Regions from separate parts of the Homo sapiens genome. Here region 2 is linked to region 1. The links come from fine-mapping of genetic effects on gene expression. A gene starts in region 1. The other region holds a variant in brackets. All regions are shown on one strand. Distances are between the middles of the regions.

The links. PIP is the estimated chance that this variant, and not a neighbour inherited with it, causes the effect.
Region 2: its variant is the best candidate, but not a certain one, in a credible set for the expression of SOST in aorta (GTEx, PIP 0.70).

Annotation. Positions count from the first base shown.
Region 1 is chr17:43,756,583-43,761,951 of GRCh38, reverse strand. It overlaps SOST (sclerostin), which reads left to right and starts at 3,161. Exons shown (of 2, transcript NM_025237.3): 1 at 3,161-3,430. The coding sequence starts at 3,211. RefSeq lists a silencer at 1,217-1,511.
Region 2 is chr17:43,696,647-43,702,015 of GRCh38, reverse strand. All of the region lies in intron 3 of LINC02594 (long intergenic non-protein coding RNA 2594), which reads right to left. Among named protein-coding and RNA genes, the nearest start is that of LINC02594, 34 kb to the right of the region's middle. RefSeq lists enhancers at 1-145, 263-422. The variant A/G (reference allele first, on the strand shown) is at 2,698.

The DNA of each region.
Region 1 (5,369 bases):
ATTTATGTAACAATTTTGAAGTGAAAAAAAAAAATGACAGAAATGGAGATTAGATGAGTAGTTGCCAGGGGTTAGTTGTGGGAGGGAGGGAAAAGGAGGGAAGGAGGTGGGCAACAGGAGAAAGACTTGTGGTCACAGAGCTGTGCTTTATCTTGACTGTGGTGGATCCCCAAATTTACCCGTGACAAGATTGCATAGAACTAAGTATACACACACGTGAATGCGTGTGCACGCACACAGTAGAGGTTAAACCACGGGAGATGTGGGTAAGATTGGTAAATTGTGTCAATATCAATATCCTAGTTGTGATATTGTCCTATAGTTTCGCAAGGTGTTATTGTTGTGGGAAACTGGATAAAGGATACACGGAGTCTGCATTTTCTTTTTTTTATTTTTATTTTTTGAGACGGGGTCTCACTCTGTCATCCAGGCTGGAGTGCAGTGGCCCAAGTATGGCTCACTGCAGCCTCGACCTCAACCTCAAGTGAACCTCCCACCTCAGCCTCCCAAGTAGCTAAGACCACAGGCGTGCGACCCCATGCCCAGCTAATTTTTAAATTTTTTGTAGAGACTAGGCCTCACCATGTTGCCCAGGCTTTTATTTCTTATAAGTATATTTAAATTTATAATTATATCCACATTTTAAAATTTTAATTTAAAAAATTACTCTGAGGCCGGGCATTGTGGCTCATGCCTCTAATCCCCAGCACCTTGGGAGGCCGAGTTGGGCAGATCACCCGAGGTCAGAAGTTCGAGACCAGCCTGAGTAACATGGAGAAACCCCCGTCTCTACTAAAAATACAAAATTGGCCGGGCGTGGTGGTGCATTCCTGTAATCCCAGCTACTCGGGAGGCTGAGGCAGGAGAATTGCTTGAACCCAGGAGGTGGAGGTTGCAGTGAGCCAAGATTGTGCCACTGCACTGCAGCCTGGGCCACAGAGAGAATCTGCCAAAAAAAGAAAAAAAAAAAAATTTCAGCCGTACAAGGATGTTCATAGCAACCCTGCTGGAAATAGGAAAAAAAATTGGAAATAACCTAAACTACTCACAATAGGAATCAGCTAAAACCCTGGGGGTTTAATTCCAGGGAGTACTGTGAACAATGACAAGTTTGTGGACTGAGTAAAAATAAACAGCTGTCAATGACTTAACATTAAATGAAACAGCAGAAGATGTCACAGCAGGTTCTCGCTGAGCCATTCAGAGGGGTGTGGATCATTTAGAGGTTCAAGTCCACTGGATTCTTCTTTTTCCTTTTAATATTACTTCACTTCCAAATAAGGAAAGGAAAGGAAAGGAAATCACGTCCAGTCCTGAGACTTGCCATCCTGCAGTCACCCCTCCTTTTGTCTCCAGCAGGTGGCAGACGCGTTCCAGGGATGAATCCCACTGCCTCTGTTTAATGCAGACGGTCCAGCCGCTCCCAACAGCAGGTGGGGCTATAAGCATCCATCCTACCTGCTCAAGGAACCCAGGCATCAGAACTGCTCTCTCCCAAGTCCATTGCAAGAAGGCAGTCGTCTGGTCATGAGAGGGTTAACAGTCCACATTCCAGAGCAAGGGAAAAGGAGGCTGGAGGGTCATAGACAAGGGGAGGTGGCGCGGAGGGCCAGCTTCTCACAACACTACCGGCTCTGCTGGGAGAGATAGATCACCCCCAACAATGGCCACAGCTGTTTTCATCTGCCCTGAAGGAAACTGACTTAGGAAGCAGGTATCAGAGAGGGCCCTTCCTGAGGGGGCTTCTGTCTGGCTTGTAAAACTGTCAGAGCAGCTGCATTCATGTGTCGGATGATGGATGATGGAAAGGAGGACAGTCGGCTGCAGATGGACACAGCGACTTGCAAGTTGAGGCAGGTGGCAAAGGACTTGCAGAGGCTCTGCAGGTGGGGCATGCTGATTCATTGCCCAGTTAAAATACCAGAGGATCTGGGCAGCCTCTTCACAGGAGCTGCTTGTCCTCAAACAATCTGTCTTCAATGAAAGATTCCTCTGGCCTTCCTTTCTCTTCTTGCACCTCAGGTGTGAATCCTTCTCCCCCACGCCTCTACCTGCCCCCCCGCCCCCCGCCCCGGCCCTGTGTGGCTCATTATATGCAGGGCCAAGGCAGCATTTTCTCTTAGCTTCTTTGTGACCACTTGGTCCTGGGATGGCTTCATGGAACACATCCTGTGGTGTGCACCAATGAAGCTTTCCATACAGGACTCAAAACTGTTTTTGAAAAATGTAACCAGCTGGAAGACAAGAAAATAAAATGTCAGCACTAAAAACGCTGGCTGTGGCTTTTGCTAAGGAAAGGAATTTGGTGTTGTCTTCTCACACACACAGACTGGTTGGGGAAATGACTGTCTTCAGCACATCACCCTGCGAGCCACAGTGAGTGCCCTGGCTCAGAAGTGCCTGTCACAGTGCACAGGATCCCTGAGGAGCATGAGCTGGGATTTCCTCTGTGCTGTCCACCACAGGAGCCTGAGTGACCAGCGCATCCTCGATTTGTAACCAGAATCCTGCCCTCTCTCCCAAGCGGGCACCCTTGCTCTGACCCTCTAGTTCTCTCTCTTGCCTTCCAGAGAATACCAAGAGAGGCTTTCTTGGTTAGGACAATGAATGCTGAGACTTGTGGAGTTGGGACCAATGGGATTTCTTTAAAAGCATCTTTTTGCCTCTGGCTGGGTCTATGGGGGTCAAACAGAAACGCCTTGGGCCATTTGTTGGTGGGGTGACAAATGAACTTGGCCTGAGAAATGGAATAGGCCGGGCTCAGCCCCGCGAAGCACTCAGAACTGCACATTTTCTTTGTTGAGCGGGTCCACAGTTTGTTTTGAGAATGCCCGAGGGCCCAGGGAGACAGACAATTAAAAGCCGGAGCTCATTTTGATATCTGAAAACCACAGCCGCCAGCACGTGGGAGGTGCCGGAGAGCAGGCTTGGGCCTTGCCTCACACGCCCCCTCTCTCTGGGTCACCTGGGAGTGCCAGCAGCAATTTGGAAGTTTGCTGAGCTAGAGGAGAAGTCTTTGGGGAGGGTTTGCTCTGAGCACACCCCTTTCCCTCCCTCCGGGGCTGAGGGAAACATGGGACCAGCCCTGCCCCAGCCTGTCCTCATTGGCTGGCATGAAGCAGAGAGGGGCTTTAAAAAGGCGACCGTGTCTCGGCTGGAGACCAGAGCCTGTGCTACTGGAAGGTGGCGTGCCCTCCTCTGGCTGGTACCATGCAGCTCCCACTGGCCCTGTGTCTCGTCTGCCTGCTGGTACACACAGCCTTCCGTGTAGTGGAGGGCCAGGGGTGGCAGGCGTTCAAGAATGATGCCACGGAAATCATCCCCGAGCTCGGAGAGTACCCCGAGCCTCCACCGGAGCTGGAGAACAACAAGACCATGAACCGGGCGGAGAACGGAGGGCGGCCTCCCCACCACCCCTTTGAGACCAAAGGTATGGGGTGGAGGAGAGAATTCTTAGTAAAAGATCCTGGGGAGGTTTTAGAAACTTCTCTTTGGGAGGCTTGGAAGACTGGGGTAGACCCAGTGAAGATTGCTGGCCTCTGCCAGCACTGGTCGAGGAACAGTCTTGCCTGGAGGTGGGGGAAGAATGGCTCGCTGGTGCAGCCTTCAAATTCAGGTGCAGAGGCATGAGGCAACAGACGCTGGTGAGAGCCCAGGGCAGGGAGGACGCTGGGGTGGTGAGGGTATGGCATCAGGGCATCAGAACAGGCTCAGGGGCTCAGAAAAGAAAAGGTTTCAAAGAATCTCCTCCTGGGAATATAGGAGCCACGTCCAGCTGCTGGTACCACTGGGAAGGGAACAAGGTAAGGGAGCCTCCCATCCACAGAACAGCACCTGTGGGGCACCGGACACTCTATGCTGGTGGTGGCTGTCCCCACCACACAGACCCACATCATGGAATCCCCAGGAGGTGAACCCCCAGCTCGAAGGGGAAGAAACAGGTTCCAGGCACTCAGTAACTTGGTAGTGAGAAGAGCTGAGGTGTGAACCTGGTTTGATCCAACTGCAAGATAGCCCTGGTGTGTGGGGGGGTGTGGGGGACAGATCTCCACAAAGCAGTGGGGAGGAAGGCCAGAGAGGCACCCCTGCAGTGTGCATTGCCCACGGCCTGCCCAGGGAGCTGGCACTTGAAGGAATGGGAGTTTTCGGCACAGTTTTAGCCCCTGACATGGGTGCAGCTGAGTCCAGGCCCTGGAGGGGAGAGCAGCATCCTCTGTGCAGGAGTAGGGACATCTGTCCTCAGCAGCCACCCCAGTCCCAACCTTGCCTCATTCCAGGGGAGGGAGAAGGAAGAGGAACCCTGGGTTCCTGGTCAGGCCTGCACAGAGAAGCCCAGGTGACAGTGTGCATCTGGCTCTATAATTGGCAGGAATCCTGAGGCCATGGGGGCGTCTGAAATGACACTTCAGACTAAGAGCTTCCCTGTCCTCTGGCCATTATCCAGGTGGCAGAGAAGTCCACTGCCCAGGCTCCTGGACCCCAGCCCTCCCCGCCTCACAACCTGTTGGGACTATGGGGTGCTAAAAAGGGCAACTGCATGGGAGGCCAGCCAGGACCCTCCGTCTTCAAAATGGAGGACAAGGGCGCCTCCCCCCACAGCTCCCCTTCTAGGCAAGGTCAGCTGGGCTCCAGCGACTGCCTGAAGGGCTGTAAGGAACCCAAACACAAAATGTCCACCTTGCTGGACTCCCACGAGAGGCCACAGCCCCTGAGGAAGCCACATGCTCAAAACAAAGTCATGATCTGCAGAGGAAGTGCCTGGCCTAGGGGCGCTATTCTCGAAAAGCCGCAAAATGCCCCCTTCCCTGGGCAAATGCCCCCCTGACCACACACACATTCCAGCCCTGCAGAGGTGAGGATGCAAACCAGCCCACAGACCAGAAAGCAGCCCCAGACGATGGCAGTGGCCACATCTCCCCTGCTGTGCTTGCTCTTCAGAGTGGGGGTGGGGGGTGGCCTTCTCTGTCCCCTCTCTGGTTTGGTCTTAAGACTATTTTTCATTCTTTCTTGTCACATTGGAACTATCCCCATGAAACCTTTGGGGGTGGACTGGTACTCACACGACGACCAGCTATTTAAAAAGCTCCCACCCATCTAAGTCCACCATAGGAGACATGGTCAAGGTGTGTGCAGGGGATCAGGCCAGGCCTCGGAGCCCAATCTCTGCCTGCCCAGGGAGTATCACCATGAGGCGCCCATTCAGATAACACAGAACAAGAAATGTGCCCAGCAGAGAGCCAGGTCAATGTTTGTGGCAGCTGAACCTGTAGGTTTTGGGTCAGAGCTCAGGGCCCCTATGGTAGGAAAGTAACGACAGTAAAAAGCAGCCCTCAGCTCCATCCCCCAGCCCAGCCTCCCATGGATGCTCG
Region 2 (5,369 bases), 60 kb after region 1:
CACTGGACTCCAGCCTGGGCGACAGAGCGAGACTCCGTCTCAAAAAAAAAAAAAAAAAAGAATGAGACCCCATCTCTAAAAAAAAATAAAAAATAAAATAAACATGCATAGTATCTATTAATGTAAGTTACTCGGCAATATGGACAATGAGTAAGAGGGTAAAATCTGGTTCTGTCACTTACCAGACTTTGAAGGAGTTACTTAATTTCTCTTTGCCTCAGTTTCCTCATCTGCAAAATGAGGACAGTAACAATAACTGCTCCTAGGTTTGTTGTGCAGATTAAACAAATGTATACACCGTAAGGCACTTCAAGAAGGGGTAGTCAGAGTGTTTGCTTCAGTTCCCAGGAGCTGGGAGACCTCACATCCTGGCGGAGCCTCTAGTTCTGGCTGCACAGACCTGACTAGCCTGGCCTGGCCGCAGTAGCTGGCCCTGAGTAGTGACCCGCTCGCCCGCTGCCCTCGGAAGCCTCACTTGGCTGACAAACAGGAAGGTGGCAGGGCTGCCTGCGTGCCCTTGCCGCCCCCACAGCCCTGTGTCTGGCCCCAACCCTCATCTCTACTCGCGGCTGCGGTGAACTTGGATGGTGCTACTCTCACCACAAACCACAGTCCGTCACAAATTGCCGTGTGGTGAGTAGCGAGCACATTTATAATTGATGAAATCAGGGGGTGAGAGCTCATCGCTGAGATGCTCAGTAAACAAAGACCTGGTCCTTGGGTGGGGGAGGGGGTGCTTGAGAGTAAACAAGGGGACAGGAATGTTGGGGGGCTTAACTCTCCTGGAGAGTACATGAAAGGTCTCACCCACCAGCTTTTGTTTTTATTATTAAGCTTATTTTAAAGAGTTTCAATCCTATAGAAAAGTTGCACGAATATATAGACTCACATAGATTCCTTTTTTTTTAGAGACCGGGCCTCAGTCTGTCTCCCTGGCTGGAGTGCAGTGCTGCAATCATAGCTCACTGCAGCCTCAAACTCCTGAGGTCCTCTGATCATCCCACTTCAGCCTCCCAAGAAGCTGGAAGTACAGGCGTATACCACCGTGCCCACGTAATTTTTACTTTTTTTTTTTTTTGTAGAGATGGGGTCTCACTATGTTGCCCAGGCTGGTCTCAAACTCCTGGCCTCAAGTGATCCTCCTATCTCAGCTTCCCAAAATGTTGGGATTTACAGGTGTGAGTCACTGCACCTGGCCTAATAATTATATTCTTCAGTCTTTTCTTACTAGTCTGTTCTTAGTCTCATTCTGTTTAACCATTTGTGAGTAAGCTGCAGAGATCATGAACTTCCCTGCTAAATACCTCAAGGACATTTTCTTACATACCTATAAGAATGACTAACGGCCGGGAGCGGTGACTCATGCCTGTAATCCCAGCACTTTGGGAGGCTGAGGCGGGCAGATCACGAGGTCAAGAGATCGAGACCATCCTGGCCAACATGTTGAAACCCTGTCTCTACTAAAAGTACAAAAACAAGCTGGGTGTGGTGGCACCCGCCTGTAGTCCCAGCTACTCAGGAGGCCGAAGCAGGGGAATCGCTTGAACCCGGGTGGCAGAGGTTGCAGTGAGCCGAGATCACACTATTGCACTCCAGCCTGGTGACAGAGCAAACTCCGTCAAAAAAAAAAAAAAAAAAGAATGACTAATATCAGAAAATGTAATAACACAATACTAATATAAAATCCATGTTCAAATCTCACCAATTATCCAATACAATCCTTTTTAGCAACTCTTTTTTCCCAATCAAACCTGATTAGCCTTTCAATAGTCAAGGTCCCAGGTAATTGTCACCCTTGGTCCCCCACCCCACTGGGGGCTAGAATCCCACAGTCAGGTAGGAGTGATGAAGCTGTGGTCAGATCAGAAAACAAGGCCAAGCTTAGGATAACAGCTGGAGCCAGATGTAGAATCTGGCTAAGTAAGCTCTGGGAGCCCTGGAAGCTGTTTCCAGAAGGTCCCCAGGGATGGGAGCCCAGGTGAGCAGGGAGAGAGGCATGGAAGCTCTTACTGGGATCCCAAGGGAGACAGGAGGCTCTCACACTTCTGTCACAGCAGCCAAACCCTGGGCATGGACAGGTGGGGACAGGAGAGATGTTAGGAAGATAGGGAGGAGATCATCAACATTTCAGGCACAGAAGCTGGCAGAAGAGAGACACCTTTGTCATCTGTATTATGCTAATTGGTTAGTCTGTATATTTATTTAACAAATGTCTATTGCACCCTTACTGTATGCCAAAAACTATTTTAAGTGCTGGGGATACAGACCCAGTTCCAACCTTAAGGTGTTTATGTTCTATTGGGAGATGGGATAGTTTGCACTGTTGTTGTGAAAACGGTCACCCCCCCATCCCCTCCCACTCCCCTTCACAACAGGTGTAAGAGAGTAAACTTGCCCAATCCACTGCTATTACACTTGGCCATGAGACTTCTTTGGCCACTAGAATGTTAGCGGTGTGTCATGATCACCCTTAACCGTGCTGTGAGGTTTGGCTTGGCTTTTAAGTTCCTGCCATTCTCCAAGACAAGCATGTGCCCCAGGGAGCTGCTGGTCCAAGGAGAATGGAGAGAGACATGGAGTCCACCCAAACCCAAGCCATAGCCTGGAGCTGCCCTGCTCGGGCTGACACACAGACTCACAAATGAGAAAGATCAGCACTTGTTTGGAGCCTCTGAGTATCGGGGTGGTTTGTTACAC[A/G]GCATCATTTCAGCAGTAGCTGACTAAGATGGGTGGAGACAGAATATAAACAAGCCAACTAAGACATGTGTGATGTCTTAGTGATAAGAACAGGAAGACAAAGAAAGCAGGAGAAGAGGAAAAGAGTGGTCAGGGCTGTTATAGATAGGGCAGCCAGGGGAAGCCCCCTGATAAGGGAGCAGAGATCTGAAGGAAGTGGGGGAAGGAGTTATCCAGGGCAGGAATTTCTCAAGGAGGAAACAGCAAGCGCGAGGCTCCCCAGGCAGGCACAAGCTGAGCCCAGGAGCAAGCCTGTATGGCTGGAGCAGAAGGAGCCAGCAGGGATAGGGTGGAGTGATAGGAGATGGTTCAGAGAGGAGGCTGGGGCCAGATCCAGTGGAAAGGACTTAGACATTTATTGGACTTGGACATCATCTCGTATAACTTGTTCCTAGCTGTCTGATGAAAGAGCGGACATGCAGAAAGGGCGCTGGCTGAGCTCCCTGGTTTGGGATGAGTACTGGCAGTGCCAATGTCAGCCACATTCAAGCCAGTGTTCCAGGGGCCTTCTCTCAGTCTCATGCTCCTGCTTTTCCTTGAGATTCTCCCCTCTCTTGTCCCCTCCCTATCTTGGCTCTCTACCCACCACCCCAACACCTCCAGCTCCCCCTCTGCTCCCCCTTTTGCTCCCCTGGACCTTCCTGGCTCTCGGCCTTCAACCCTCAGCCCTCAGCCCCTTTGGCTCTCAAGGTGGGGACCACTCCCACCTCTCCAGCCCTGTCTTGGAGCCCTGGGCATTCTGTCACTAGCTCTCTGCTTGGTCCTGTCCCTCAGGTGGCCTGTGGTCCTTTCACACTGGACATGCCTCAAACGGAGCCCATCGCGAGGGGAAGGGCTCTCAGGGACTATCTGAAACCTCGGGAGCTTCGTAGACCCCTCTACAAAGGGGAGCCAGTGGCCCAGCCAGTGGCTTTATTTTCCTAAGATACTGATTTCAACATGTCACTCCCCAGCCTTCTGTCTTGGATGGCAGCTCTTCTCTATGGGATGAAGGAACCCTCCTCGGCCCAGCACTGAAGGTCTTCTACCGTCTGGTCTCAGCTCACCTTTGCATCGGCTCCCACCGCCAGCCAAGCTGGATGCCCTCCCACCCCATGCCTCAAGCACACCCTGCTTCTAGGTCCTTACTCACAGGGCCCTTTGCTCAGTGGGAGTTTGCTGAGGGCCCACTGTGTGCGGGCGCTTTCCAGGGTGCTAGGCACAGAGGAGCAGCTGGCAGACTTACATTCGTAGAGCACACTCGGGTGCCTCTGCTGCGCCTCCCTGCACCTCCCCTTCCTTCCCTTCCCTCAAGGCTGGTCACCTATGGCCTCCACGACCAATGTCTCCCTGCTCCTTGGTCATTGGGAAGGTAAGCATACCTTGCCTTGTGTCTGATTGTTCTTTTAAATGAAGATTTCCATTTTTAACTATAGAAGTGACACATCCTCATTGTGAAAAATATGTAGAATGTGGAAAAGAAAGAAGCAAAAGAAGTTATATAACCTGGCTAAGAACATGGAGAAGCTTCTCTTAAAAAGAGGTGTCCTCAGCTGCTCGCCTTCCACACGCCTTCCTCACAGAGGAGGCAGCCTTGATTCCTGGGTGGGAAATGCCAAAAATGACGGAATCAAAGCCTTTTCTGGAAGCGGGCAGAGATTTCTAGGGGTGGGGAAGAGAGAATATAGAACTTAAGAGAACTGAGCTCTTGATGGAAAGTGGGGGTGGGGAACACAGAGGGGAGGCCCAGAGACTGAGAGGTCTAGGAGAACGGGTTAAAACCGAGGCCAGAGCCCCGGAAAAGGAGCCCAGAGGCCCCAGCTCTTTCCCTACTTACTTACTGTATCTGTGTGACCTTAAGCGAGTCCCTTGGTCTCTCTGAGATGCAGTATTTTCCCAAGTGAACGGGCATTGCCACACTTCACCTCCTCAGGGCGTTGTGGGGACCTTCAAAGCCGTAAAGCCCTTTGTAAATGGTAACGCCTAACACAAATAGGAGAGCACGCTGCCCTCTCTGGGTAGGCCCCTCATCTGGGTCCTGGTTCCAGTCTGGTACTGAGCCTCTGGAGGACAAGGGTCACATTTATTCCAATTTCTCTTCTGCATGCCCCAGTGCCCACTGAGCACAGTGGGAATACAAACACATTTATTATGCACTCTGCATATGACTAGAAGGAACTTTGGAGCTCAGATCCACCCTTTACACAGATGGGGAAAATCAAGGCTCACACCACAAGGTGAGCTTGGTGGTATCTTTACAACTCCAGGTAGTGACAAAACCAGGATGCAGATTCTGAGGAATGAACGAGTGAGAGAATGAAGGGAAATGGGGCAACAGTCAGCATGAGCAAGGGCTGACCTATGGTGGGTCTTAGCCTTTACTGTGCTCAGTGGCCCCACAGCACCATCGTCTCTCCAAGGAGCACGGAAGCAGCCCCCCGTGTGGGGTATGGGCACAGACCCCAGGGCCCAGGCAGGCAGGGGATGTGCCAGTGGTCCTTGCCACGGGCCACCAGCTTTGCCACCCTGCTCCAGGGCCCTGGCCTCTCCCCAGGGTGCAGGACGCCACTCCCAGGCACTCTGGCTCCGTTTCTTACCAGGCTGCTCTGGGATGGCAGCATCCCAGCATCGCTATAAATAGCATCTCTCCTGGG